Regions from separate parts of the Homo sapiens genome. Here regions 1, 3, 4, 5, 6 and 7 are each reported to be linked to region 2. The links are microRNA targets in miRTarBase. Many come from high-throughput screens and were not tested one by one. Region 2 holds a microRNA gene; each other region holds the end of a gene's coding sequence.
What was found. Region 2 holds the annotated microRNA hsa-miR-3161 (CUGAUAAGAACAGAGGCCCAGAU, at 1,501-1,523, shown strand). A microRNA usually pairs through its seed, bases 2 to 8, with sites in the 3' UTR of a target mRNA and lowers its output. Matches are read on the target gene's strand: a 7mer-m8 pairs with bases 2 to 8, a 7mer-A1 pairs with bases 2 to 7 and ends in A, and an 8mer does both.

Region 1 (4,068 bases), not on the chromosome of region 2:
TCTGTATTTTGTAGTGGAATTTCACCATGTTGCCCAGGCTGGTCTGGAACTCTTGGGCTCAAGTGATCAGCCCACCTCAGCCTCCCAAAGTGCTGGGATTACAGGCATGAGCTACTGCATTCAGTTGTTTTTTAGATGAGGCCTCCCTATGTTGCCAAGGCTGGAGTGCAGTGGCTATTCATCAGCAGTGACTATTCATAAATAATCATAGTTCATTGTGACCACCAACTCCTGGACTCAAGCAATTCACTGATTTGCCCACCTCAGCCTCACAAGTAGCTGGTACTACAGGTGTGTGTCAATGTCTTGTCGCTGTGCCTATCTTGTTATTGTTATTTTTGCTTCTGAAAAATATATAAAATATATATATATATATTAAAAAATATTGTTTGTGTCAGACACACAAATATTTAAAACTATGCCTGAAGCCATCAAGGTTATTATGGCCAAAGATTTCAATTTCCTTTTTTGGTCAAAATGCAAAATTGATACCCTGAGAATAGAGTCACAAACGTGTACCTAGAAAAGGTAGTATGCATCAGTTAGTAAGAAACTACTTTGGAGAACAGGATTTTCTCTGTTGTCAAATGTTTATAGCTTAGTAAGATTTCTGCAGAACACAAGATACATCATTTTAATATGGTATATAATTTTCTACAGGGTTATTCTAGTCTTTAGCTAGCAGAAAAACTAGCTAAAACCTTTTTATTTTAGTTTTTAAAGGGATATAAAACCTTTGCCCAAGTTAACAAGAATATCTCAATTGCATTCTTTTTTTTGAGATGAATTTTCACATTTTTGTTGCCCAGCCTGGAGTGCAGTGGTCCGATCTCAGCTCACTGCAACCTCCGCCTCCCGGGTTCAAGCAACTCTACTGCCTCAACCTCTCAAGTAGCTGGGATTCCAGGTGCCCACCACCACACCCGGCTAATTTTTATTTTTATTAGACACGGGGTTTCACCACGTTGGCTGGGCTGGTCTTGAACTCCTGAACTCATGATCCACCCGCCTCGGCCTCCCAAAGTGCTGGGATTACTGGCGACAAGATCTTTTTTAAACAAGAGTCATAAAAAATTAGCACCATAAAAACTGTTTCTTTCATTCTTACTTCTACAAATCAATCACTTGCTGAAGATCAGTTCACACTAATTCAAAATACACTGTTATACCATATATATTATCTACTTGATGTCAATAATGAATAGGCATAATATTAATAAATTATTCCAGTATTTTCAATTCCTTAATTTATTTAAAAGCCATTGTTCTAAATGAACCATGCAGCAATCCAAGATAACCAGAAACCAAATCAACTTTGTCACGGTCTCATGATTTATGTTTTTAACTTTCATTTTAGAATTCAGGTCATTTTTTTTTTTTTTTTTTGAGACGGGAGTCTCGCTCCATTGCCCAGGCTGGAGTGCAGTGGCGCACTCTCAGCTTACCACAACCTCCACCTCCCGAGTTCAAGTGATTCTCCTGCCTCAGCCTCCCAAGTAGCTGGGACTACTAGGTGAGTGCCACCATACCTGGCTAATTCTTTTTTATTTTTGGTAGAGACAGGGTTTCACTATGTTAGCCAAGCTGGTCTTGAACTCCTGACCTCATAATCCACCCGCCTGGGCCTCCCAAAGTGCTGGGATTACAGGCATGAACCACCATGCCTGGCTTTTCTTTTTTTGTTGTTGTTGAAACAAGAGTATTGCTCTTGTCACACAGGCTGGAGTGCAGTGGCGCGATCTTGGCTCACTGCAACCTCTGCCTCCCAGGTTCAAGCGACTCCTCTGTCTCAGCCTCTCGAGCAGCTGAGATTACAGGTGTCTGCCACCATGCCCAGCTAATTTTTATACTTTCAATAGAGGCAGGGTTTCACCATGTTGGTCAGACTGGTCTCGAACTCCTGTCAGGTCATTATTTTTAATATATAATAGTGACAACCTAATACTTGCAATTATTTTTCCTTTAGAAGATGTATACATTAGCTATTATCATCGAAGTATATCAAGTTCTTCAAGTATATTTTTGGTATGTAGAAAACATAACAAAAATGGCTTTAAAAAAATGAAAGATTAGGCCAAGCATGGTGGCTCATGCCCATAATCCCAGCACTTTGGGAGGACAGAGTGGGCACATCACTCAAGGCCATGAGTTCAAGACCAGCATGGCCAACATGGTGAAACCTCATCTCTACTAAAAATACAAAAATTGGCCAGGCGCAGTGGCTCATGCCTGTAATCCCAGAACTTTGAGAGGCCGAGACAGGTGGATCACCTGAAGTCAGGAGTTTGAGACCAGCCTGGCCAACATGGCGAAACCCCATCTCTACTAAAAATACAAAAATTAGCCAGACATGGTGGTGCGTACCTGTAATCCCAGCTACTAGGGAGGCTGAGGCAGGAGAATTGCTCAAACCTGGGAGGTGGAGGTTGCAGTGAACCGAGATCATGCCATTGCACTTCAGCCTGGGTGACAGAAGGAGACTCTGTCTCAAAAAAAAAAAAAAAAAAATTAGCCAGGTGTCTTGTCACATGCCTGTAATCCCAGCTACTCAGGAGGCTAAGGCAGGAGAATCACTTGAACCTGGGATGCAGAGGTTGCAGTGAGCCGAGATCGTGCCACTGCACTCCAGCCTGGGCAACAAAGCAAGACCCTGTCTCAAAAAAGAAAAAAAAAAAATCAATGATTGGCTGGGTGCACTGGCTCAGGCCTGTAATCCCAGCACTTTGGGAGACCAAGGCAGGAGGATCACTTGAGCTCAGGAGTTCCAGACCAGCCTGGGCATGAGCCACCATGCTTGGCCTCTTCTTTTTTTTTTTTCTTTTGAGACAGAGTCTCACTCTGTCACCCAGGCTGGAGTGCAGAGGCGCGATCTCGGCTCACTGCAATCTCTGCCTCCCGGGTTCAAGAGATTCTCATGCATCAGCCTCCCGAGTAGCTGGAACTACAGGCATGCATCACTACGCCCAGCTAATTTTTGTAGTTTTAGTAGAGACGGGGTTTCCATGTTGGCCAGGCTGGTCTTGAACTCCTGACCTCAGGTGATCCTCCTTCTGTCACCCAGGCTGAAGAGATCCACACTTCAGCCTCACAAAGTGCTGGGATTAGAGGCGTGAGCCACCGTGCTCGGCCCCAGGCATAGTTTTAAATGACATTTATCTACTGGCTTTTCCATTGAGTTTTTAGTGTGATAAACTGATAATGTTTAACCATAAAGAAAGTTAACAACCCCTTAACTTATAACCACTTTGAAGTTTATTTTACAGCACTTTAATTGAAACATTATTTAACTACTGACCAGGACTGTTTACAAATGCAATGCTTGGCCTTCGAGATAATTAAAAACCTTTAAGTACTAAAATTTTACATCATGATTTAACTTAAGTGTTATGATGGTGAAAACAGAAGAAAATCTAAAGCAAACATATAATGATTTCCACAAAAACCATGTATTTCTCCCTTATATTAAAGGGAGGAAAGAAGGAAGGAAAAAGAAAAGGAGGGGAAAAGCGGGCGAGAAGAAAAGGAAAGAGTGCATGATAAGCAAGAAAAATACACTTTCCCCCCAATTCGCAAAAAGAAGGGAAACGCTGAGGTCTCAGCAAATTAGGTATTCAACTGAGTCAGTTTATATTAAGGCATTTTCTTTACATATTATTGAATCCCATCATGCCTTTCATGTTGCCAGCAGCACCCTGTTGAAACTGCCTCATCATTGACTGAAGTCCTGCCATACCACCTAGAGCAAAAGTAGGGAAGTAGAGTTAAAAACAGAGAATTATTAAGCAGAACTGGAAACATTTATTACTTTTGCCTAATAAGTACTTCTAAAAATACTGAATTCTGATTGCAATTTAGTCATCAGCCTTAAAGAACGTACCACCTAAAAATTTGTATTATCACCAGTTATCTTCATCAATAAAAGAGAATGAATAGCCTATCTTACGGAGTTATTGCGAGGAATAAATGAGGTGATACATAAAAAGATCTTAGGATACTACCGGTCACATAGTCAATAAATCTAAACAAAAAATTTTTTTCTTATAAATCCAAAAGGGTCTTACTCTAAGT
Region 2 (4,068 bases):
CTGGACTTATGAGACTTTGAGAATTTTTGCTTTTTCTTTGTTAATGCAAACTTTGGAAGAGAGCAACTCTTTCTGTAATGCAATTTATTTGTACAATGTGGTAGTTATTGTTAATAGCTAATAATGATCTTCAACTGGGTAAAATACCATTGTGTGTTTGAGAGGGAGAGAGAGAGAGAAGGGTAGGAGGAGAGGGAGAATATCTTTTGTTCAAAGCCAAATGTTGCTACTTCTGAAGACGAGTGCACCTTATGGGTATAGCCAGCTATAATGTTTATCAAACATATACTTTTTTTTTTTTTTTTTGAGATGGAGTTTTTGCTCTGTCACCCAGGCTGGAGTGCAGTGGCATGATCTCAGCTCACTGCAACCTCCACCTCCCAGGTTCAAGTGATTTCTCCTGCCTCAGCCTCCCTCGTAGCTGGGATTGCAGGTGCACGCCACCACACCCAGCTAATTTTTGTATTTTTAGTAGAGACAGGGTTTTGCCATGTTGGCCAGGCTGGTCTTGAACTCCTGACCTCAGGTGATCCACCCACCTCGGCCTCTGAAAGTGCTGGGATTATAGGCATGAGCCACCATGCCCTGCCTCAAGCATCTATTTTGTGCAAGAGCTTGCAGAAGTTCTTTCCTGCCACAGCCGTGGTTGGCCACATTGCTCCCCCATGAATATGTGGAAACTGACACTTCAGGAGAATTGGTGGCTCACCCATGGCATTCAGCTAGTGGGTTATGGGGCAGAGACTCAAACTCAGCCCTGACTCCCACAGCATTGTTCTTTTTCTGTAAATTGCTGACTTACTCAGTTGATCACAGTTCATTGCCGTTTACAGAATTTGTCTGCACCCATTGTGCCTTTTAAGTGTCGATTTTCTTTCCTGAAAGCACACAAAGCAAAGCACGGCTCTGCAGTGTGACCCACCGTGTGCTGTGTGGACAGATGATGCTGGTCAGCAGGCAGGAAAACGATCTGCCAGGCGCTGGGGGTGGGGCAGAGGATTGTTCTTCCTGACCTTGGTATGAAAACCGTATGGAGTTCTTAGTGAGGAAAATCACTCTTAGCCCAAATTCCTGCGAAGGCCGATGGGATTGTTTTTAAGATTTGTTGGATTGCTGGATTTGTTGAAGGGAGAACTGGAAGAAGCTATCAGAAGTTTACAGGGCATCGGAGGGAGACACTCCCTTTGGCCACTTTCTCCGCCAAAACTATCCTGGTTTTAGCCCAACAGTTTCCCACGCCCGCCCCCACCCCCACAACCTTGTTTGTTTAAAGACCATTAAAGAACGTCTTCAATTTATTCTGGATTGAGTTTTCCTCAAACCAAACCACCCCTCAGTTCACCCCCCAGAGCTGTTGAGGCCCTTCCTGGGGGCTTGTGGCTGTGGCTGCCTCAGATCAGAGCAGACCCTGGGCTGCATCATCCTTCCACATTGTCTCTCTAAAGTACCTGAAGCCAGTAGTTCTCAAACTTTGGAGAGGGTTTTGAGTCACCTCGAGAGCTGATAAGAACAGAGGCCCAGATTGAAGTTGAATAGTGCTGGGCCTTTGTTTTTACCAAGTTCCCTGGATGGTTCTGCTACCTCCTAGCCTGTGAGAACTACTCCTTTGTGATTTCTTGCCATTGAAATTTTTTCTCACCTTCTTCTTGGCTTGAGTGCTCTTCTGGGTTCCTTCCGGCTGTCCAAATCAAATTTAATTTTCACACCCAGACCTTGTCCCTGCTCTCATCCTTCAGCCCACCCTCCTGTTCCCCATTCAGCCAGACCCCCTGCCAGTCAGTTCAAGTGCTAGGCATGGGGTATCGAGTCTCAGGCCGGTCCACAGACATTCCAGCACCTGGTGGTAAGAGGTGAGTGCTGCGTGGACCCACTGAGGAAGGCTCTGGCTGTGCTGGGGGAGGGGAGTTTATGCTCGTCCTCATAGAAGGATAAGCAGGAATTAAGTGGGCAAAGGAGGGAGTGAGGAAGCTCTCACTTTCTAGGTAGTAGGACCAGCATGAACCAAGGTAGGGGATGACAACATGGCTCATTCAGGGAATTTGAGGTATGTTGATACATGGAAAAATGTACCTGAAATGTGAGTCCTGCTTTTGTGACTCACCCTTTCCTTTACATAAGCATTGATTTACATCTGTTGTTTTTTAAGATAGTGTGTATGTTGAAAAGTTCAGAACAAGATCAAGTGGAGACATAAAATGGTAAGATGTGAAAAGTTGTTCTTGCCAGATTAAATGGTTCCACCTGAAGAAAATTTTTTTTTTTTTTGAGATGGAGTCTCACTTTGTTGCATGGGCTGGAGTGTAGTGGCGTGATCTCAGCTCACTGCAACCTCCGCCTCCCGGGTTCAAGCAATTCTCCTGCCTCAGCCTCCCGAGTAGCTGGGACTACAGGTATACACTGCCAAGCCCGGCTAAGTTTTTGTATTTTAGTAGAGACGGGGTTTCACCGTGTTGCCCCAGGCTAGTCTCAAACTCCTGAGCTCAGGCAATCCCCAGCCTCAGCCCCCCAAAGTGCTAGGATTACAGGCATGAGCCACCGCACCCGGCCTGAATTTTTTTTTGTTTTGTTTATTTATTTCTTGGTTTTGCTGGCCTTTAAGCAACCCAAGACTAGGGGGCTTTCACTCCGTCCCTAGAGAGCTCAAAGGGCCTGACTTAGGGGACACAGTCAGTGAAGGGGATGAATGAATGAGTTTCAGATCCAGGTGTTCTGGATAAGTCACTTTACCTTTCTGGGCCTTTTTCCTCAACTCCAAACAGAGGATGTCGGTATAGACAATCCCTAGGATCTTGTCCCCTTTATGACTGATCACACAGTTCCACTGCTTGCCCTTGAGGCTTTGGTGTCCGCGCATGCCTATTCAGTCTGACCCACAAGAGGCCAGGCCAGCTCTGTTCCAGGCCCTGAAAATCCCATTAAAACTCCACTCACTAGCCTGTTCCCTGGGGGTGCTGAATCAGCATTTAATGGGGAAGGCCACGAGCTAGGCTCTGGTGGGTAGGAAGTGTGTGACTTCTCTTACCTCAACAGTTTCTACTGTAACTAGCGGGATAAGGTAAATCTATGGAAATGCAAGGCTTATGCCGAGGCTCACAGAGTGGGCCAGGCTGCATAAGTCCTGGACACCACAGGGCCTGCTTTGAGAAGGCAGCTGTGGTCCCACAGCCTTGACCACCAGGCACCATCCTCTGTTGCCAGTGGACCCACATTTCAAATCATTTTATCTCTTTTTTTTTTTTTTTTTTTTTGAGACGGAGTTTCGCTCTGTCGCCCAGGCTGGAGTGCAGTGGCGCGATCTCGACTCACTGCAAGCTCCGCCTCCCGGGTTCACGCCATTCTCCTGCCTCAGCCTCCTGTGTAGCTGGGACTACAGGCACGCGCCACCATGCCCGGCTAATTTTTGTATTTTTAGTAGAGACGGGGTTTCACCGTGTTAGCCAGGATGGTCCCGATCTCCTGACCTCGTGATCCGCCCGTCTCGGCCTCCCAAAGTGCTGGGATTACAGGCGTGAGCCACCGCGCCCGGCCTTTATCTCTTAAATAACCTGTATTCATTTGTTCCTTCCCATGTCTTATCCACCAAAAATCTCCAATTGGAAATTCAGACAAGGATTGAGACCCTGTGTTCTTAAATTGGGTTGATTGAAATCTAGAAACAATGATAGTAATAACAGAGTTATCTTCTCTCGAACATCTGCCTCCTGCCTGATGTTATTTCGCTTAATTCTCTCAAGGGCTTGAGGAGAGTCCTGCCATAATCCTTCCTTTCAGAGGGGAAGATCGAAATTTAGCTCAGATCTCAAGCTAGTAATCATCAGAACCAGGATATAGAATCAGGACTAGACCACATGGTCCCTGCTCTGAGCTGCTGCGGGTCCATCCCTGTGGCTCTGTCCAGGGTAAATGGATGATTCAGGGGAAGGGTCAGCAAACTATAGCCCATGGGCCAAATGCAGCCACTGCTTGTTTTTGGGTGGCCCAAGAGCCAAGAATAGTTTCCACATTTTTAAATGGGTGGAGAAAACAAAATCTACAAAGAATAATGTTTCATGACACATGAAAATTATG
Region 3 (4,068 bases), not on the chromosome of region 2:
GGGAACAACATCCTCGGTTCCGAAGTGGCCTTATTTGCAGGGATTGCTTCAGGATGCATCATCTTCATCGTCATCATCATCACGCTGGTGGTCCTCTTGCTGAAGTACCGGAGGAGACACAGGAAGCACTCGCCGCAGCACACGACCACGCTGTCGCTCAGCACACTGGCCACACCCAAGCGCAGCGGCAACAACAACGGCTCAGAGCCCAGTGACATTATCATCCCGCTAAGGACTGCGGACAGCGTCTTCTGCCCTCACTACGAGAAGGTCAGCGGGGACTACGGGCACCCGGTGTACATCGTCCAGGAGATGCCCCCGCAGAGCCCGGCGAACATTTACTACAAGGTCTGAGAGGGACCCTGGTGGTACCTGTGCTTTCCCAGAGGACACCTAATGTCCCGATGCCTCCCTTGAGGGTTTGAGAGCCCGCGTGCTGGAGAATTGACTGAAGCACAGCACCGGGGGAGAGGGACACTCCTCCTCGGAAGAGCCCGTCGCGCTGGACAGCTTACCTAGTCTTGTAGCATTCGGCCTTGGTGAACACACACGCTCCCTGGAAGCTGGAAGACTGTGCAGAAGACGCCCATTCGGACTGCTGTGCCGCGTCCCACGTCTCCTCCTCGAAGCCATGTGCTGCGGTCACTCAGGCCTCTGCAGAAGCCAAGGGAAGACAGTGGTTTGTGGACGAGAGGGCTGTGAGCATCCTGGCAGGTGCCCCAGGATGCCACGCCTGGAAGGGCCGGCTTCTGCCTGGGGTGCATTTCCCCCGCAGTGCATACCGGACTTGTCACACGGACCTCGGGCTAGTTAAGGTGTGCAAAGATCTCTAGAGTTTAGTCCTTACTGTCTCACTCGTTCTGTTACCCAGGGCTCTGCAGCACCTCACCTGAGACCTCCACTCCACATCTGCATCACTCATGGAACACTCATGTCTGGAGTCCCCTCCTCCAGCCGCTGGCAACAACAGCTTCAGTCCATGGGTAATCCGTTCATAGAAATTGTGTTTGCTAACAAGGTGCCCTTTAGCCAGATGCTAGGCTGTCTGCGAAGAAGGCTAGGAGTTCATAGAAGGGAGTGGGGCTGGGGAAAGGGCTGGCTGCAATTGCAGCTCACTGCTGCTGCCTCTGAAACAGAAAGTTGGAAAGGAAAAAAGAAAAAAGCAATTAGGTAGCACAGCACTTTGGTTTTGCTGAGATCGAAGAGGCCAGTAGGAGACACGACAGCACACACAGTGGATTCCAGTGCATGGGGAGGCACTCGCTGTTATCAAATAGCGATGTGCAGGAAGAAAAGCCCCTCTTCATTCCGGGGAACAAAGACGGGTATTGTTGGGAAAGGAACAGGCTTGGAGGGAAGGGAGAAAGTAGGCCGCTGATGATATATTCGGGCAGGACTGTTGTGGTACTGGCAATAAGATACACAGCTCCGAGCTGTAGGAGAGTCGGTCTGCTTTGGATGATTTTTTAAGCAGACTCAGCTGCTATACTTATCACATTTTATTAAACACAGGGAAAGCATTTAGGAGAATAGCAGAGAGCCAAATCTGACCTAAAAGTTGAAAAGCCAAAGGTCAAACAGGCTGTAATTCCATCATCATCGTTGTTATTAAAGAATCCTTATCTATAAAAGGTAGGTCAGATCCCCCTCCCCCCAGGTTCCTCCTTCCCCTCCCGATTGAGCCTTACGACACTTTGGTTTATGCGGTGCTGTCCGGGTGCCAGGGCTGCAGGGTCGGTACTGATGGAGGCTGCAGCGCCCGGTGCTCTGTGTCAAGGTGAAGCACATACGGCAGACCTCTTAGAGTCCTTAAGACGGAAGTAAATTATGATGTCCAGGGGGAGAAGGAAGATAGGACGTATTTATAATAGGTATATAGAACACAAGGGATATAAAATGAAAGATTTTTACTAATATATATTTTAAGGTTGCACACAGTACACACCAGAAGATGTGAAATTCATTTGTGGCAATTAAGTGGTCCCAATGCTCAGCGCTTAAAAAAACAAATTGGACAGCTACTTCTGGGAAAAACAACATCATTCCAAAAAGAACAATAATGAGAGCAAATGCAAAAATAACCAAGTCCTCCGAAGGCATCTCACGGAACCGTAGACTAGGAAGTACGAGCCCCACAGAGCAGGAAGCCGATGTGACTGCATCATATATTTAACAATGACAAGATGTTCCGGCGTTTATTTCTGCGTTGGGTTTTCCCTTGCCTTATGGGCTGAAGTGTTCTCTAGAATCCAGCAGGTCACACTGGGGGCTTCAGGTGACGATTTAGCTGTGGCTCCCTCCTCCTGTCCTCCCCCGCACCCCCTCCCTTCTGGGAAACAAGAAGAGTAAACAGGAAACCTACTTTTTATGTGCTATGCAAAATAGACATCTTTAACATAGTCCTGTTACTATGGTAACACTTTGCTTTCTGAATTGGAAGGGAAAAAAAATGTAGCGACAGCATTTTAAGGTTCTCAGACCTCCAGTGAGTACCTGCAAAAATGAGTTGTCACAGAAATTATGATCCTCTATTTCCTGAACCTGGAAATGATGTTGGTCCAAAGTGCGTGTGTGTATGTGTGAGTGGGTGCGTGGTATACATGTGTACATATATGTATAATATATATCTACAATATATATTATATATATCTATATCATATTTCTGTGGAGGGTTGCCATGGTAACCAGCCACAGTACATATGTAATTCTTTCCATCACCCCAACCTCTCCTTTCTGTGCATTCATGCAAGAGTTTCTTGTAAGCCATCAGAAGTTACTTTTAGGATGGGGGAGAGGGGCGAGAAGGGGAAAAATGGGAAATAGTCTGATTTTAATGAAATCAAATGTATGTATCATCAGTTGGCTACGTTTTGGTTCTATGCTAAACTGTGAAAAATCAGATGAATTGATAAAAGAGTTCCCTGCAACCAATTGAAAAGTGTTCTGTGCGTCTGTTTTGTGTCTGGTGCAGAATATGACAATCTACCAACTGTCCCTTTGTTTGAAGTTGGTTTAGCTTTGGAAAGTTACTGTAAATGCCTTGCTTGTATGATCGTCCCTGGTCACCCGACTTTGGAATTTGCACCATCATGTTTCAGTGAAGATGCTGTAAATAGGTTCAGATTTTACTGTCTATGGATTTGGGGTGTTACAGTAGCCTTATTCACCTTTTTAATAAAAATACACATGAAAACAAGAAAGAAATGGCTTTTCTTACCCAGATTGTGTACATAGAGCAATGTTGGTTTTTTATAAAGTCTAAGCAAGATGTTTTGTATAAAATCTGAATTTTGCAATGTATTTAGCTACAGCTTGTTTAACGGCAGTGTCATTCCCCTTTGCACTGTAATGAGGAAAAAATGGTATAAAAGGTTGCCAAATTGCTGCATATTTGTGCCGTAATTATGTACCATGAATATTTATTTAAAATTTCGTTGTCCAATTTGTAAGTAACACAGTATTATGCCTGAGTTATAAATATTTTTTTCTTTCTTTGTTTTATTTTAATAGCCTGTCATAGGTTTTAAATCTGCTTTAGTTTCACATTGCAGTTAGCCCCAGAAAATGAAATCCGTGAAGTCACATTCCACATCTGTTTCAAACTGAATTTGTTCTTAAAAAAATAAAATATTTTTTTCCTATGGAAAAAGTGCCTTCAAAGTACTTTTCTTCTTTTCTTTTCATTTTTCTTTCTTTTTTGTTTGTTATTTTAATTTGCCTTCCTTTACTCTATTTCCCCCAAAATTACAGTTAATCCAGAGACTTCTGTCTATGGACACTGTGTGCCCACTTTTCAAATCGGGATGTGCACATCACACAAATATTAATTTTGCTAAGAGCCGTGAGCTCGTTATTCCCCATAAAACCACAAACTCTCATTTCAAAAATAATATGCAATTGTATAAAATCCTAATAATCCTCAACAGAAAATCTCTCTAGTGGCACCTGAATTGCACAGTCAGAATAGTTACCTACAAAGTTAGCTGTCTCAGGAAAAAGAGGGAAATGTACTCTTATCTTACACTTAATTCCAGATCGATCTAGTGTCCATAGAAGCAAAGCAGCGGT
Region 4 (4,068 bases), not on the chromosome of region 2:
CATGGAATATGCCCCAATTTTTCTACTATACCATATTGCCTGCATTTATCTATCTTAAAGGAAAAGGGAGTGAGATACTCTTAGGTATTTTTCTGAGATTTTGAAGTTCAAAAGTTTTTTGTTTAAATCTTTTCCCCAACAAAGGCAGTAGGGCATAGTGGAAAAGTACAAGACTTATATTCTAAAATATCCGGGCTCCAAAGCCAACTTTATTGCTTACCAACCAAGTGACCTGGGTAAGTGACTCAGACTCATTGAGTCATCATTCTCTCACTTTCACAAAATGAAATGGAAATAACAATGACTATCCCAATAGGGTCCACTCATTAAAAGAAATCAGGAAGTGGCTTCAAGGCCATGTGGCCAATGTAAATTAAATATGAGGATTTCTGTTAAAATAGACATTTCTAAATTTCATCTGTCCACTTTTTGGTGATAACTATTTTAATATTTGTCTTTTTATTTTTATCTTCCTTTCCAAATAGGTCGGGAGTTTAGTGTACCTGAGATAATTGCCATAGCAGTAGTTGGCGCTTTGTTACTGGTTGCACTCATTTTTGGGACTGCTTCTTATCTGATTCGTGCCAGACGCAGTATGGATGAAGCTAACCAGCCTCTCCTCACTGATCAGTATCAATGCTATGCTGAAGAATATGAAAAACTCCAGAATCCTAATCAGTCTGTGGTCTAACAAATGCCCTACTCTCTTATGCATTAGTATCACAAAACCACCTGGTTGAATATAATAGATTGAGTTATTAACTGTATTTTCTTTCACTTTATTACCTTCTTTCTAATACAAGCATATGTTAGCATTAAAGTTCTAGGCATACTTTTCAAAGCTGGGAAGACCCTTTCAGAATCTTTTCAATGGGTTTTAATTTTCAGTTCTATTTAAAATGGTGAATGACACTAAACTCCATGATATTTAAGGATAGTGTGAAGATCTTTGGCATGATTTAAAGGTTGAGTATGTGAAGATATAAGTAAGTGAACTACCATGCTTTGTTTACGTGTAAAGGAAAATAATGTTTGATAGTAAATGTCCACTTAAAATACATGAATGGGCATTTCTAAAATGTTAAAACATAAACACATTTCCATTCATGGATATTTGTCAACAGATTTAAAGAAAACCACAGTTATTAATTAAAGAAAATTAATTATGTGTAGTTATAAACCAATGAAATTTTGATTAACCTTTTCAAATTAATGTTCCAGTTTGAAGACCAATCAAATATATTATTTAGTCAACATATACTATTTAGTCTCAGGTTCAAGGCTACAACAAAAATCACCATCTTTGTCAAACTTTGGAGAGGGAAAATCTTCACTTTCTTAAGCAACAATGGATATTGCCTGTGTTTGCCACTGTGTTTCCCTGCCTCTCAATTCGCTGAAAAAGGAACTACCTATCCTTACATTTCACCTACTAATGTCTCTTCTAACATCTTAGAGGTCCATGGAGAAGGCATATGGAGAACATGTTTTATACTGCTCTATAAATAGTATTCCAATCACTGTGCTTAATTTAAATAGCATTATCTTATCATTTATCAGCCTTTTATGTATTTTCCAAGTAAAATATTAACATATTATTTCATTGGTCTTCTTTTTTATCTGGTTCTATATGAATGCTATTTTTTCCCTTCTCTTCTAACATGAAATATATTTTCTCTTTTTGATCTTGTGCTATGAAACAATCTTCCAAAGAACTGTATAAGGTGGTCATAAGTGAATATTTTAATTAAAATTGGTAAAAATAAATAATAACAGTAATAATCATGCACTATAGAAAATGGCTAAACTGAGATTCTAAATTCTACAAACAGAAACAAGTTTAAGTTATGTATCCCTGATTGGTTACTGGGTTTTCCTATATTCAAAAATATTAAGGCTATATATACACAAGATAAACAAATAAAATATATCAAAGAGCATGCATATAACAATAGGATGTTTTACACTAGCATTATTCAATTTATTCTCTTGGAATACATTGCGATTTGTTAAAATACAGTATACTCACAGCTTTTCAAAGAAATTACTGTGTAATGTAAGATGCCTTTTTATATAGAACATCAATGAAACTAAATACTTCACTTTATATTTTTGTAGACTTACTAATTACTCATTTCAGAAACATTTATTAAGCACATACTAGATATCAAGTATTTCAAGGCACTATAGATTTAGAGAGAAGAAAATAAGAATTGTAAAATTGAGAAGGTCATGTTTGACTTGTACTTCAAGGACTGCCAATGGATTTACCAAATATAGAAGCAGAGAAGGGAATTTTATTCAAAAGTGACAGCATGGACAAGGGCACAGAAGTTTAAAAGAGCATGGAACTTTTTAAAATATAAAATAGGTCAGTGTGATTACAGTATAGTTTTTATGGAGGGGAGTAAAAAGATAAATTGGAAATAAAACCAGAGTGTCCTATATGCAATTCTTAATACTTGGAATTAATTCCATGGGAAATAGGAAACAGGGAGAGTCATAATCAAGCTGTATATTTATAAATATAGTAGTGATGGTGCTGTTCACAAATAACGTTGATGAGAAATAATTTGGAATGGTTAAAAGCAAAGAAACTCATTAATATGGAATAGATTGTGGGAGAGAGGAGAAAGCCTTGTTTCAAAGCATTAATTCTAAATAATCATAATTATAAGATAAAGTTGTACACATCTATAAATAAATAAATACAGCTTATATTATAAATACTATATAATATTGAAATTATAAGTATAATATAAATATAGCTTTAAGTAAATCATTACAAAAATGTCAGTTAACAATGGAAGACTGTGAGAGAGAGGATTAAAACAAGAGCAAAACAGAAAACTATTAACAAAATGGCAGTTAGTAAGTCCTCAGCAATCAGTAATTATTTTAATGTAAATGGCTTAATATCCCAAATAAGAATGCTTAAAGTAGCTGAGTGAATCAAAAAACATGATCCAGTGACTTGCTGTCTATAAGAGACTCACTTTAGATTTAAAAATACATATAGGCTGGAAGTAAAGAGATGGAAAAGGATATTATGAAAATGGTAAAAAGAAAAAAAAAAGAAAGCAGGGGAGGCTATCCTATCAGACAAAATAGACAAAGTCAAAAACTTCCTCTAGAGGTGAAGTTCATTATATAATAATAAAAGGGTCAATTTAACAAGATATAACAATTGTAAATATATACATATTCAATATCAGAGCACTTAAATATACAAAGCAAATGTTGATAGATCTGAAAGGAGAAATTGATATCAATACAATACTAGTAGTAGAATCTAATATTCCACTTTCAATAATGTATAAAACATCCAGGTAGGAGATCTATAAAGAAAGAGAGTACTTGAACAACACTGTACACCAGTTGGACTTTAGGGACATATACATTACATACCACTCAACAGCAGCAGAATATTCTTATACTTCAGCAACATGTTCTTCTCAAACACAGGTGGAACATACTCCAGGATAAATTACATCAGACCTCAAAACAAGTCCCCCCAACATTAAAAAGATAAAAGTCATTTCAAAGATCTTTTAAGATCACAATTGAGTAAAATTAGAAATCAATAGTGCAAGAAAGTGGGAAATTCACAATGACGAAAAAACAATACACTCTTAAATAACCATTGGGTCAATTAGGAAATCATAGAGGAATTTAAATTATATCTCAAGGCAAGTGAAAACAAAAACACAACATATCAAAACTTACAAGATCCAGCAAAAGTACTAAAAAGGAATTTTGTAGCAATAAATGCCTACGTTGAAATCTAAGGATCTCAAATGAACAACCTAGCTTATACCTCAAAGAACTAGAAAAAGAACAACAAACTAAGCCCAAAGTTAGCAGAAAGAAATAAATAATGAAAATTAGAGTAGAAATAAGTACAGAATAATAAAACAAGAGAAAATTCAGAAAATTAAGGGTTTTTTTTAAAAAAATAAAAAAATGGACAAACCCTTAGCTAAACTAAGAAGAGGAGAGGACTCAAAATCAGAAATGATAGAGGAAGCATTAAAATGTGTTCCTAAGAAACAAAAGGATCAGAAGAAA
Region 5 (4,068 bases), not on the chromosome of region 2:
GGTTTTGTAAGTTACACACTTCAAGCATTATAGATGATCCTCTTTTTACTACTGAACTAATGAAGCCTTTTTCATTGCATTGTTCTGCATTTATTTCTACAGGGAGAAAACTGGTTGTCCTGGATGTTTGAAAAGTTGGTCGTTGTCATGGTGTGTTACTTCATCCTATCTATCATTAACTCCATGGCACAAAGTTATGCCAAACGAATCCAGCAGCGGTTGAACTCAGAGGAGAAAACTAAATAAGTAGAGAAAGTTTTAAACTGCAGAAATTGGAGTGGATGGGTTCTGCCTTAAATTGGGAGGACTCCAAGCCGGGAAGGAAAATTCCCTTTTCCAACCTGTATCAATTTTTACAACTTTTTTCCTGAAAGCAGTTTAGTCCATACTTTGCACTGACATACTTTTTCCTTCTGTGCTAAGGTAAGGTATCCACCCTCGATGCAATCCACCTTGTGTTTTCTTAGGGTGGAATGTGATGTTCAGCAGCAAACTTGCAACAGACTGGCCTTCTGTTTGTTACTTTCAAAAGGCCCACATGATACAATTAGAGAATTCCCACCGCACAAAAAAAGTTCCTAAGTATGTTAAATATGTCAAGCTTTTTAGGCTTGTCACAAATGATTGCTTTGTTTTCCTAAGTCATCAAAATGTATATAAATTATCTAGATTGGATAACAGTCTTGCATGTTTATCATGTTACAATTTAATATTCCATCCTGCCCAACCCTTCCTCTCCCATCCTCAAAAAAGGGCCATTTTATGATGCATTGCACACCCTCTGGGGAAATTGATCTTTAAATTTTGAGACAGTATAAGGAAAATCTGGTTGGTGTCTTACAAGTGAGCTGACACCATTTTTTATTCTGTGTATTTAGAATGAAGTCTTGAAAAAAACTTTATAAAGACATCTTTAATCATTCCAAAATTGTGTCCGTTTTCTTGAGCGTTTTGATTTTTTACTTTTAGCTTATACCAGCTGAATGGCAGCCTTGCCTAATCCACCTACAACAAGAATTTCTTAAGCTTTCTTTTATTTGCATGAGAGAGCCACTACCAAGGCATGTTTTGTTATGCTGAAACTGGGCTGCTGCATACTGCTAAATGGCACCTCTGGGATTGGCCTACCTGGGGATTTCTTGGTTTGTGAAAACAGGAGAGGAGAAATATCTCATACAAGTGAAAGGATACTGGAGAGAGAAATTACCCATTTCTAAAAAAAAACCACACTCTGTCGTATCTGTGTTAATGTTTTCTAGCATGTACTCTGGTTTCAACAGACACAAATTTATATGTTAACCCAGTTTTCTTGCCGTTCTGTAAGTGTTTTATTCTTAGTGTGATTTTTTTCCATTGGGATGTTTTTGATTGAACTTGTTCATTTTGTTTTGCTTGGGAGGAAAATAAACAATTTTACTTTTTTCCTTTAGGAGCATTATGAGCATTATGTCAGAATAGAATAGAATTGGGGTTCGATCTTAACAGGCCAGAAATGCCTGGGTTTTTTTGGTTTGTTTTTGTTTTTGTTTTTTTATCAAATCCTGCCTGACTGTCTGCTTGTTTTGCCTACCATCGTGACATCTCCATGGCTGTACCACCTTGTCGGGTAGCTTATCAGACTGATGTTGACTGTTGAATCTCATGGCAACACCAGTCGATGGGCTGTCTGACATTTTGGTATCTTTCATCTGACCATCCATATCCAATGTTCTCATTTAAACATTACCCAGCATCATTGTTTATAATCAGAAACTCTGGTCCTTCTGTCTGGTGGCACTTAGAGTCTTTTGTGCCATAATGCAGCAGTATGGAGGGAGGATTTTATGGAGAAATGGGGATAGTCTTCATGACCACAAATAAATAAAGGAAAACTAAGCTGCATTGTGGGTTTTGAAAAGGTTATTATACTTCTTAACAATTCTTTTTTTCAGGGACTTTTCTAGCTGTATGACTGTTACTTGACCTTCTTTGAAAAGCATTCCCAAAATGCTCTATTTTAGATAGATTAACATTAACCAACATAATTTTTTTTAGATCGAGTCAGCATAAATTTCTAAGTCAGCCTCTAGTCGTGGTTCATCTCTTTCACCTGCATTTTATTTGGTGTTTGTCTGAAGAAAGGAAAGAGGAAAGCAAATACGAATTGTACTATTTGTACCAAATCTTTGGGATTCATTGGCAAATAATTTCAGTGTGGTGTATTATTAAATAGAAAAAAAAAATTTTGTTTCCTAGGTTGAAGGTCTAATTGATACGTTTGACTTATGATGACCATTTATGCACTTTCAAATGAATTTGCTTTCAAAATAAATGAAGAGCAGCTGTCCTTCTTTCCTCTTTTAAGTGTTCAGCTGTGGCATGCTCAGAGGTTCCTGCTGGATTCCAGCTGGAGCGGTGTGATACCCTTCTTTTTCAGCTGTTCGTGCCTTCCTTTCTTGTATCCACCAAAGTGGAGACAAATACATGATCTCAAAGATACACAGTACCTACTTAATTCCAGCTGATGGGAGACCAAAGAATTTGCAAGTGGATGGTTTGGTATCACTGTAAATAAAAAGAGGGCCTGGGAATTCTTGCGATTCCATCTCTACTTTGTATAAGTCTCATTTTGTGCCTTACACATCTGCAGTATTTATCATGTTCCAACTTGGTGACTGTCAGGCAGTGCAATACATCAGCAGTTTATCACCGAAGAGCTGAGGAATACCTCCCTTAAAACAGACAATGTCGGCCGGGCGCGGTGGCTCACACCTGTAATCCCAGCACTTTGGGAGGCCAAGGCGGGCAGATCACCTGAGGTCAGGAGTTTGAGACCAGCCTGGCCAACATGGCGAAACCCCATCTCTACTAAAAATATAAAAAATTAGCCGGGCGTGGTGGTGCACGCCTGTAATCCCAGCTATTCAGGAGGCTGAGGCAGGAGAATCCCTTGAACGCAGGAAGCAGAGTTTGCAGTGAGCCGAGATGGCGCCACTGCACTCCAGCCTGGGTGACAGAGCAAGACAAAAAAAATAACAGATGATGTCATATGAAAATGTGCAATGTCCAGTTTTCCCATAGTTTTCTGTATTCTCTGTGTGCATAATCTGGAGTATGAGTCTGGGAAGAAAAAGGTTTTTAGTTTCATTTGGATAGTGGCCACCTCTCCATTCCCTACGAATGCTAGAATGAAGTTACTTTTTTTTTTTTTTTTTTTTTTTTTGAGACAGAGTCTTGCTCCGTCGCCCAGGCTAGAGTGCAATGGTACAATCTCGGCTCACTGCCACTTCCGCCTCCCAGGTTCAAGCGATTGTCCTGCCTCAGCCTCTGGAGTAGTTGGGATTCCAGGCGCCCACCACCACACCAGGCTAGTTTTTGTATTTTTAGTAGAGACGGGGTTTGGCCATGTTGGTCAGGCTGGTCTCGAACTCCTGACCTGAGGTGATCCACCTGCCTCGGTCTCCCAAAGTTCTGGGTTCACAGACGTGAGCCACCATGCCCACGTAGAATGAAGTTTCTTAAATACACTAGTTAATTATTGAAACATATGCAGTATTGAGTGCTCCTACACAAACACGCTCAGCCTCTGCCCCCAGTGTGCTCTGTGCTATCCACAGCCTTAGTAGAACATGAGGCTTTTTGTCATTTCACCAGTCATTCAATAATGACTCATTTGAGTATGGATCATGCACTAGCTAAATAACCAGTTGCGCTCATGTACCCTGAAGCAAATTGTTTAGCCTGACCCATGTGTAAGAAGATCACAGAGATTCCCAACCTTTCAGTGTCAAAAAGCCTTTCCATATATATTACTTTAAAACCCATTTTCCCCCATGTGTAATAGTCTATGTTAATGACGGTTCGGGTTTCTTCTACATTGTTTGTGACCTGAGAAAGTTTAAAAGAGCCTCAGTTTCTTTCATCTATAAAAATAAAAGAGATAGAAGGACAGTTTACCTAAGGAATAAATCTGGTAACATGTAAAGTACTGAAATAGGCTGGGTGCAGTGGCTCATGCTTATAATCCTAATACTTTGGGAGGCCAAGGCAGGAGGATCCCTTTTAGGCCAAGAGTTCAATAAATAGGGC
Region 6 (4,068 bases), not on the chromosome of region 2:
TCGGAGGCTCAGGCACAAGAATCACTGGTCTCGAACTCCTGGGCTCAAGTGATCCGCCTATCTCGGCCTCTCAGAGTTCTGGGATTACAGGTGTGAGCCACCATGCCAGGCCTCAACCCCTCTTCTTTATCATAGGTATTGCGAGTTAGATGTTCTGATAGGAGACTTCTTCACAACTTGCAAACCTGCTCCTTCTTCCCGTAGGTATTTACATGAGGAATTTCCAGAGTCCTGGTCAGTTCCCAGGTTGGCTGAAGGCTTTGATGTCAGCACTGATGTGATCCGAAGAGTTTTAAAAAGCAAGTTTTTACCCACATTGGAGCAGAAGCTGAAGCAGGATCAAAAAGTCCTTAAGAAAGCTGGGCTTGCCCACTCGCTGCAGCACCTCCGGGGCTCTGGAAATACCTCAAAGCTGCTCCCTGCAGGCCACTCTGTATCAGGCTCTTTGCTTATGCCAGGGCATGAAGCCTCATCTAAAGACCCAAATCACAGCACAGCTTTGAAAGTGATAGAGTCAGACACTCACAGGACAAATACACCAAGGAGAAGGAAGGGAAGAAATAAAGAAATCCAGGACCTGGAGGAGAGCTTTGTGCCTGTTGCTGCACCCCTAGGTCATCCAAGAGAGCTGCAGAAGTACTCCAGTGATTCTGAGAGCCCCAGAGGAACTGGCAGTGGTGCGTTGCCAAGTGGTCAGAAGCTGGAGGAGTTGAAGGCAGAGGAGCCAGATAACTTCAGCAGCAAAGTAGTGCAGAGGGGCCGAGAGTTCTTTGACAGCAACGGGAACTTCCTGTACAGAATTTGAGTCGGGGCTTGGCTTATGGAGATGCCTCGTGAAACACAGCTGGGCAAGTATTAATGTATATGGAACAGCCTGGATTTCTGCATATGGATAAGCCACCTTGGAATAGGAAGAGGTGTTGAGCCTGGACTGTGGGAGGAAAGAGCTGCGTGGATAGATTCAAACTTCCTGTGGTAGTGCTCCCAGTCTGACCTCTGTAGACCTTCAGTACTCACTCTTCTTGCTTAGGCTCTCTGTGTGTTGAAAGCCATCCCGTGTTGCATGTGTTGTTACAATTTTCTGTGATACTTGCAATTTATGTTTGAGAAGAAGTGAAAAGTTTGCCTTCTGACCTCATTTCCTTCTTGATCAGTGAACACTAACATTTTGGGGACAACTTAGTCAATTGGTTTTCCTTACAACAAAATAAAGTAAAATGTAGCAGTCTGCCTCTTTGGTGCTCTTTGGGGTGGGATGGTTTACCTGTGAACCTTGGAGAGAGGGAAGGACAAAGGCAGAAAGGAAGGATCCCTGGTCAGTAAACATTGGGAGAGAGATGGAACCAGAGGAATTTCCCAGCAAAGGGCTCTGTGCAGAGCATCCTGCTTAGTGAGGGATTCTGACAACTGAAAACTGGACGCCTTTCTTTTAGTTGCTGGGGTTCTGGCAGAGATTGGGAAATGAGGGGTTGGCAGAAAATACAAAGCAGGCAAAGGCTTTAGGGCCCTTATAATCTCCAGCCACATTTTAAAGTTTATATTAAGAGCTGGGCATGGCAGAATGTGCCTACAGTCCCAGTTACTTGGGAGGCCGAGGTGGGAGAATCGCTTGAGCCTCGGAGGTTGAGGCTGCAGTGAGCTATGATTGCACCACTGCACTCCAGCCTGGGATAACAGTGAGACCCCCATCTCTAAATAAAATCAATCGATCTTCAATTATGTCTCATTATACAGTTTACTTAACCAGATTTTTACAATGGTGCCATGGTGTAGGCAATCCCGGATTAAGAGGTCCCTTTTACAAATAAGGAAATAGACTTTAAGATGGCTGCCAGTAAGTGGCAGTGCTGGGACTTAACTCGGGTCTCATCATTAATCCAGGGCTTCTGGAATTCCGGGAATATGGCACTGTCTGCCATAATTTTGTTAATTTACTGCTTGTTTTAGAAATACATCTGTTATAACTAGAAATTCGGGGACAGCTTAGTCAATTTGTTTTCCTTACAAGCAAAATAAAGTAAAATGTAGCAGTCTGCTCATTAGTGCTCTGGTGGGATGGTTTACCTGTGAACCTTGGAGAACCATGTCCTGCTTTCACAATTTACCAGGAAAAATGGCTACTCCGAATTTAAATATATGTAGGACATTAATGGAAACACCTACATTCCAACTCAGTCATTGCCACTCTGTAGAATCTTACTGCTATTTCAAATGTCCAATTACAGCAATTAAAATACTGATTACTGTTGCTTTTATCAATTATTATTGATAACTTGAGGATCTGTTCTCAGTATAAATGACAAAGCCCTGTCACATGCCAAGCAAAATTCTACGATCCAGATGCTGGTAATACAACAGTGGGCAGATAGGACCTTTGCTGTCACTGCCCTGTCACTATCATGTAGTTCATAGTAGAAGCTTATCAGTATTTTTATGGTTTTGTTATATTTATGGTATTTAATTGTTAAAGATGTGTTAGATGCTGTTTGATTGTTTAAATTTGCATTTCTCACTCCTGCAAATATCTGATCATGCCATACCCTTTTCGCAGTGGGCTATAGAAACCTAAAGGCTGTTCTTAAAACTTTGTTTTTTAATTTATTTTTGACACGGACTCTCGCTCTGTCGCCCAGGCTGGAGTACAGTGGCACAATCTCAGCTCACTGCAACCTCCGCCTCCCAGGTTCAACTGATTCTCCTGCTTCAACCTCCCGAGTAGCTGGGATTACAGGCGTCTGCCACTGTGCCCAGCTAATTTTTGTGTTTTTAGTAGAGATGGGGTTTCACCATGTTGGCCAGGCTGGTCTCAAACTCTGACCTCAAGTGATCTGCCTGTCTCGGCCTCCTACAGTGCTAGGATTACAGGTGTGAGCCACCACGCCTGGCCTTTATTTTTCTTTTGAGACAGGGTCTCACTCTTGTCGTCCACACTGGAGTACAGTGGCTCAATCTTGCCTCACTGCAACCTCTGCCTCCCAGGTTCAAGCGGTTCTCATTCTTCAGCCTCCCGAGTAGCTGGAACTACAGGCGGGCACCACCATGCCCAGCTAATTTTTTTTATATTTTTAGTAGAGACAGGATTTCACCATGTTGGCCAAGCTGGTCTCAAACTCCTGACCTCAAGTTATCTACCTGCCTTGGCCTCCCAAAGTGCTGGGATTATAGGCGTGAGCCAACACGCCTGACCTTTATTTCTTTTGAGACAGGGTCTTGCTCTGTCATCCATGCTGGAGTGCAGTGGCTCAATCTCAGCTCACTGCAATCTCTGCCTCCTGGGTTCAAACTATTCTCATTCCTTAGCCTCCCGAGTAGCTGGGACTACAGGCATGCACCACCACACCCAGCTAATCTTTTATTTTTAGTAGAGATAGGATTTCACTATCTTGGCCAGGCTGGTCTCGAACTCCTGTGCTCAGGTGATCTGCCTGCTTCGGCCTCCCAAAATGCTGAGATTACAACGTGAGCCACCACGTGAGGCAGGCGGATCACCTGAGGTCAGGAGTTTCAGACCAGCCTGGCCAACATGGCAAAACCCCATCTCTACTAAAAATACAAAAATTATCTGGGTGTGGTGGCAGATGCCTGTAATCCCAGCTACTGGGAAGGCTGAGGCAGGAGAATTGCTTGAACCCGGGAGGCAGAGGTTGCAGTGAGCCGAGATTGTGCCACTGCACTTCACCTTGGGTGACAGTGAGACTCCATCTCAAACAAACAAACACCTCCAATGCTGTATCTCAAATACCATGTCTACCCTTCTTCCTGCTTTACTTCATCTATTACACAAGTAATACATACTCATTAAAGAAAAAGACAAGCAAAATGAAAACAAAAGTCATCCCTGATCCCACCAGTGAAGAGTTACTATCCTACCAACATTTTTCTAAGCATATGTACAACTTTAAGACAAGCACGAAAGAATAATACTGTGCCAGGCGCGGTGGCTCACGCCTGTGGTCCCAACAGTTTGGGAGGCCGAGGCGGGTGGATCACTTGAGGCCAGGATTTCGAGATTAGCTTGGCCAACATGGTGAAACCCCGTCTCTACTAAAAATACGAGAATTAGCGACT
Region 7 (4,068 bases), not on the chromosome of region 2:
CTTTAAGCCTTGGCTCTGCTGGAGCAACCTGAGCTCACCGCCCCTTCTCAATTTCCCCACCTAAAAAAAAAACAGGGCTGGACCCCACTTTAGGAGAGGCCTCAAAGAGAACCCCCTAAAGCCCTGCTCTCCAATTCGCCACATGCGGCTGAACCCAGATGTGCTGTGAAGGTAACAGACGCCGGATTTGGAACACTCTGTACCAAAAAAGCGAGTAAAATATCTCAGCAATGTTTTTTACTGATTACATGTTGAAATGTTAATATTTTGCACCTGCTAGGCTAAATGTACTGTATTGTTAAAAATTTCAGCTGTTTTTATCTTGTTTAATGTGGCTACTAGAAAATGTTTAATTACCTGTAAGGCTCACATCATATTTCTATTGGACGGTGCTGCCCTAGACGCTGCAGGGAGATAAGTCCTGCTTATGTCCTGCCCAAGGGTGGCTTCCCAAAGCCTCGGGGGTCTCACCGAAAGTGGCTGAGCTTACCAAGGTGCGAGAGCCTGTTTCTCCCCAATCTGCTGCTCAGCCACAGCTCAGGCAGTAGGGAGCAGCCACCTGCGCGGACTGGGCCCCTCCGAGAGGGCAATCTGGAGGGTGACGTTGTGGTCGTGGGCATCTGGCAGCTTCGATTTCCCCTGCGTCCCCTGCCGCGCCCTAAGGGGTGAAGGCCGGTGGTGCGCGTTCCCGGCACAACTCCGAGAGGAGGAAACGGAGACAGGGGGCGCCCACGTGGCCTGGCCAAGGTCACCCGGGTCAGCCCGACTCCACGCGGCCCGGCCCGCCCCCTCCCTGCCCCTAGTCGCGCCGGGCCCGGGCCGTACTTGGCGCTCGGTGATCCAGAAGCGCACGTTGGGCTCAATGAAGGCGGGGACGGCGTCTCTGCGTCCTAGGAGCCGCCCAGGTTGCGTTTCCTCCTCCTGTTCCAGGGACATTTTGCGCTGGTTAGAGTGGCCGCCGCCGCCAGGCCGCGCGTGGAGGAGGAGCCGGGCGGCGAGCCCCGCCCCGGGCCGCGCGCACCCGCAGTTCCCGCCCCAGGCCCGCGCGCCCGACGTCCCGTGTCACAGCGCCTCGGGGCCCTTGCGCGCCCACTGTTCCGGCGAGCGCAGCTCTCCCACGGGCCACGTCCTCCCAACCCTGCTTGCCCTGCTCCGCACCTTTGGGGAGCCGGGCCGTCTCCAGGCCCCAAGGGGTCACTATCGGAACCCGTCATCACAGTACCTAATGCGAAGACCCGGAAAGGTTGTGAGTGAGGCCGTCCGCAACCTCACCCTGCGCTTCTGCCGCGCCCTACCCCTGGTCATTACCCTCGAAAATCCCTCCGATGGCCCACGAATTCCAGTGTGCATGGTGTTGCGCAGTCAGGCCGGCTGCATCATGGTCTCAGCCCAGGGAAAATGTCAAATGCGGTGCCCCTTATTCATGTTACTGAGAATTTCAAGAGAGTAACACCAGAGCATCAAACCAAGTATAGGGCCCTGGGCACAGTGCACTATCCCTCAGCCCAACAGGTTGTTTTTTTTTTTCTTCCAGTGTTGGGGCAAATCCAGTTCCTTTTGTTGACTACCAAATAGGTACCATTTGTAAAGAAAAACCTGCCTTCCCTTCCTCCTCCCACCTGCCCTTCCCCAGCACAGGGCCAGGCGGGGGCTGTGTGCACTTAAATTCACGGAAGCCACAAGTGTGCCTAGGTCGTTCAGGGGGCCTCCGGAGTCCAGGACTGGGGGACCCAGCACATCATCTAGTTGTGTGACCCTCGCCAAGTCAGTATCTCGAAGTCTATTTTCCCATCCGCAAAATGAGGATAACAATTGTACCTATCTCAGGGTTTTGTTTCTGATCAAAGGAGATAAAACATCCCTAACACAGCACTGAGCCCTCAGAAGTGCTCAGTATTGGCCATTAACCTCCAGCGGGCCAATTCCTTCCCTTGCCCTGCGCCTCCAGGAACAGGAAATTGGCTCATGGCGTCCTTCAGGCCTGTATGACTCTGCTTCTGTATTTGCTCAGTTTGCCTAGCTCACTTTTCTTAACCTCCAGGGGTTTATCTCCTCTTCCAGGAAGCCTTCCCTGACCCTCCGAGTTGAGTAAGGTGCCCCCTCCACTTCTACCCTTATGCCGCAGAAATCCATCTAAGCACCAGTGCAGTATGTAGCGTGCTGTTCTATTCTGTTGTCTCTACCCTCCAGGATGTCACAAAGCCAGCCCGCTGGCCTGCTTCCCCACTTTGGACTGCTATGTCGTCTTAACAAAGGAGCCAGAGTGATTCTCTTAGAACAAGTTGATGTCACTCTTCTTTTCAAATCCTTCCTGACATTCCCCACCCCAGAACAGAACCTAAAGTCCTTGGCCTGGCCAAAAGGCACTCTGGGACCCCCACCACAGCCATAGTCACCGGCCTCCTAGTAAATCTGCATCCGCTCTGAGCCCACTCTTGCCTCACGGCCTTTGTGTTTTCCCTGCCCTCTGCCTAGAAGTCTCTTATCCCCGTAATACTCTCACTTTCTACGCGTTTTCTCTCCCTCGATGCTCATCAAAACCCTGAGATAAGTACAATTATTGTCCTCATTTTACAATGAGAAAATTGATCCAGAGAGGCTCTCCCTTAAGGCCTTCCTTGACAACCCCATCTAGAACACCTACAACTCCGCTTCAGCAGTTTCACTCCACATTATTTTCCTTCCAAACACTCTACTTTTACTACATGTATGAGGTGTTTCCCCTCTAGAATGTAAGAGCTTAAAAGCAGGGGTTTGTCCGTTGTTCGCTCTTGTGCCTGGAAAACAGCACCTGGTGCGGGGTAGGCACTCAAGGATTTACTGAAACAACGAGAAAATGTTTCCCTATCTGTCTTGCCCCTAAACCGAGTTCCTTGAGTGCGGAACCAGCATCTTATTCTCTTTGTGGCCCCTGAGGTAAATGCTCAATAAATGTTTGTTGATAATCTGAGAAGGAAAGGAGAGCCCAAAATAAGCTGATCCAACAGTTACTGGTGGTAAAATGCAAATGTTTTAAAATATGTTTATTTTGTATGTTTTACAATGAATACTTCAGCAAAGAAAATAATTATAATTTCAAAATGCAATCCCTGGATTTGATAAATATCCTTTATAATCGATTACACTAATCAATATCTAGAAATATACATAGACAAAGTTAGCTAATGAATAAAATAAGTAAAATGACTACATAAACTCAATTTCAGGGATGAGGGATCATGCATGATCAGTTAAGTCACTCTGCCACTTTTTAAAATAATACGATTCACATTTGCTTCAATCACATAAACATTCATTGCAGGAGTTACACGGCTAATCATTGAAAATTATGATCTTTGTTAGCTTAAAAGAAAATTCAGTTTAATACAAAGACATTCAAGATGAAAATTTCAGGACCGTTGATCAGAAGCTTTCAATGTGTGTTGCTCTACTTTATTATAGGCAAGATTCAAGTAAGGCTAAGAAAGAAGAGTGTTTCCATTGAGACATGATCTAAGAATAGCCTTCTATAGAGGCAAATTATGTTCTGTAGAAACTAGCTAGCCAGCCACCAAGATGTTACCAATAAAGGATTCCTTGTACTAGCAACTAACCATGTTTAAAAGGTCTTAGCCAGAATTACAAAAACAAAACATTTAGAGTAATACTTATGAATACAAGCATAATTGGTTCCTTGCCTTCTACAAATAACCATCTTGAAAATGATAAAAGCAGGTTTCAACTGTGGTTCTTCTCTCAGTTGAGAAGGTGCAGATACACATGGGTGATCTACTGATTTACCTTCTGAAAGTACTCTTTGGAAGCAGCTGGACTTGGCTTGATCTGAAAATACAAAAGCTTAATTAGGTAACTGTGACTTTACCATAATAATAGTCCCAAAAGTGAGTGGCAATCTCCCAATTTTTAACCTAAAGTTCTTTAAACTTTTAAAGATTTCCTTTAAAACATAAAGATGAAAGTTTCATTAAGGCCTGCCTGTCTCTAGGCCGGGCACGGTGGCTCACGCCGGTAATCCCAGCACTTTGGGAGGCCAAGGCGGGTGGATCACGAGGTCAGGAGATCCAGACC

Region 1: miRTarBase lists SRP54 as a target of hsa-miR-3161. Seed matches in the 3' UTR shown: 7mer-m8 at 3,535-3,541.
Region 3: miRTarBase lists EFNB2 as a target of hsa-miR-3161. Seed matches in the 3' UTR shown: 7mer-A1 at 1,267-1,273 and 7mer-m8 at 1,489-1,495.
Region 4: the mRNA of TYRP1 is a reported target of hsa-miR-3161. Seed matches in the 3' UTR shown: 7mer-m8 at 1,546-1,552.
Region 5: miRTarBase lists VMP1 as a target of hsa-miR-3161. Seed matches in the 3' UTR shown: 7mer-A1 at 1,532-1,538 and 7mer-m8 at 1,611-1,617.
Region 6: the mRNA of NGRN is a reported target of hsa-miR-3161. The part of its 3' UTR that is shown has no 7-base or 8-base seed match.
Region 7: miRTarBase lists PRDX3 as a target of hsa-miR-3161. Seed matches in the 3' UTR shown: 7mer-A1 at 3,096-3,102.

What each region holds. Positions count from the first base shown.
Region 1 is chr14:35,028,729-35,032,796 of GRCh38, reverse strand. SRP54 (signal recognition particle 54) reads right to left here. Exons shown (of 16, transcript NM_003136.4): 16 at 3,230-3,736. The coding sequence ends at 3,645. Among named protein-coding and RNA genes, the nearest start is that of FAM177A1, 16 kb to the left of the region's middle.
Region 2 is chr11:48,095,291-48,099,358 of GRCh38, forward strand. MIR3161 (microRNA 3161) reads left to right here and starts at 1,492; the gene lies at 1,492-1,568. The region is part of intron 1 of PTPRJ (protein tyrosine phosphatase receptor type J); the gene reads left to right. RefSeq lists an enhancer at 2,336-2,836.
Region 3 is chr13:106,489,326-106,493,393 of GRCh38, reverse strand. EFNB2 (ephrin B2) reads left to right here. Exons shown (of 5, transcript NM_004093.4): 5 at 1-3,649. The coding sequence ends at 354. LOC124903247 (a long non-coding RNA gene) reads right to left here. Exons shown (of 2, transcript XR_007063940.1): 2 at 3,594-4,068. Among named protein-coding and RNA genes, the nearest start is that of EFNB2, 44 kb to the left of the region's middle. RefSeq lists enhancers at 1-266, 414-914.
Region 4 is chr9:12,708,492-12,712,559 of GRCh38, forward strand. TYRP1 (tyrosinase related protein 1) reads left to right here. Exons shown (of 8, transcript NM_000550.3): 8 at 486-1,794. The coding sequence ends at 691. The region is part of intron 3 of LURAP1L-AS1 (LURAP1L antisense RNA 1); the gene reads right to left. Among named protein-coding and RNA genes, the nearest start is that of TYRP1, 17 kb to the left of the region's middle.
Region 5 is chr17:59,839,666-59,843,733 of GRCh38, forward strand. It overlaps VMP1 (vacuole membrane protein 1), which reads left to right. Exons shown (of 12, transcript NM_030938.5): 12 at 103-2,590. The coding sequence ends at 246. MIR21 (microRNA 21) reads left to right here and starts at 1,601; the gene lies at 1,601-1,672. RefSeq lists an enhancer at 647-1,376 and a silencer at 2,662-2,856.
Region 6 is chr15:90,270,984-90,275,051 of GRCh38, forward strand. It overlaps NGRN (neugrin, neurite outgrowth associated), which reads left to right. Exons shown (of 3, transcript NM_001033088.3): 3 at 205-1,228. The coding sequence ends at 805. It also overlaps the pseudogene PERPP2. Among named protein-coding and RNA genes, the nearest start is that of NGRN, 7.3 kb to the left of the region's middle.
Region 7 is chr10:119,164,712-119,168,779 of GRCh38, forward strand. PRDX3 (peroxiredoxin 3) reads right to left here. Exons shown (of 7, transcript NM_006793.5): 7 at 3,009-3,822. The coding sequence ends at 3,769. It overlaps SFXN4 (sideroflexin 4), which reads right to left and starts at 1,003. Exons shown (of 14, transcript NM_213649.2): 1 at 826-1,003. The coding sequence starts at 936. RefSeq lists silencers at 454-640, 682-1,151.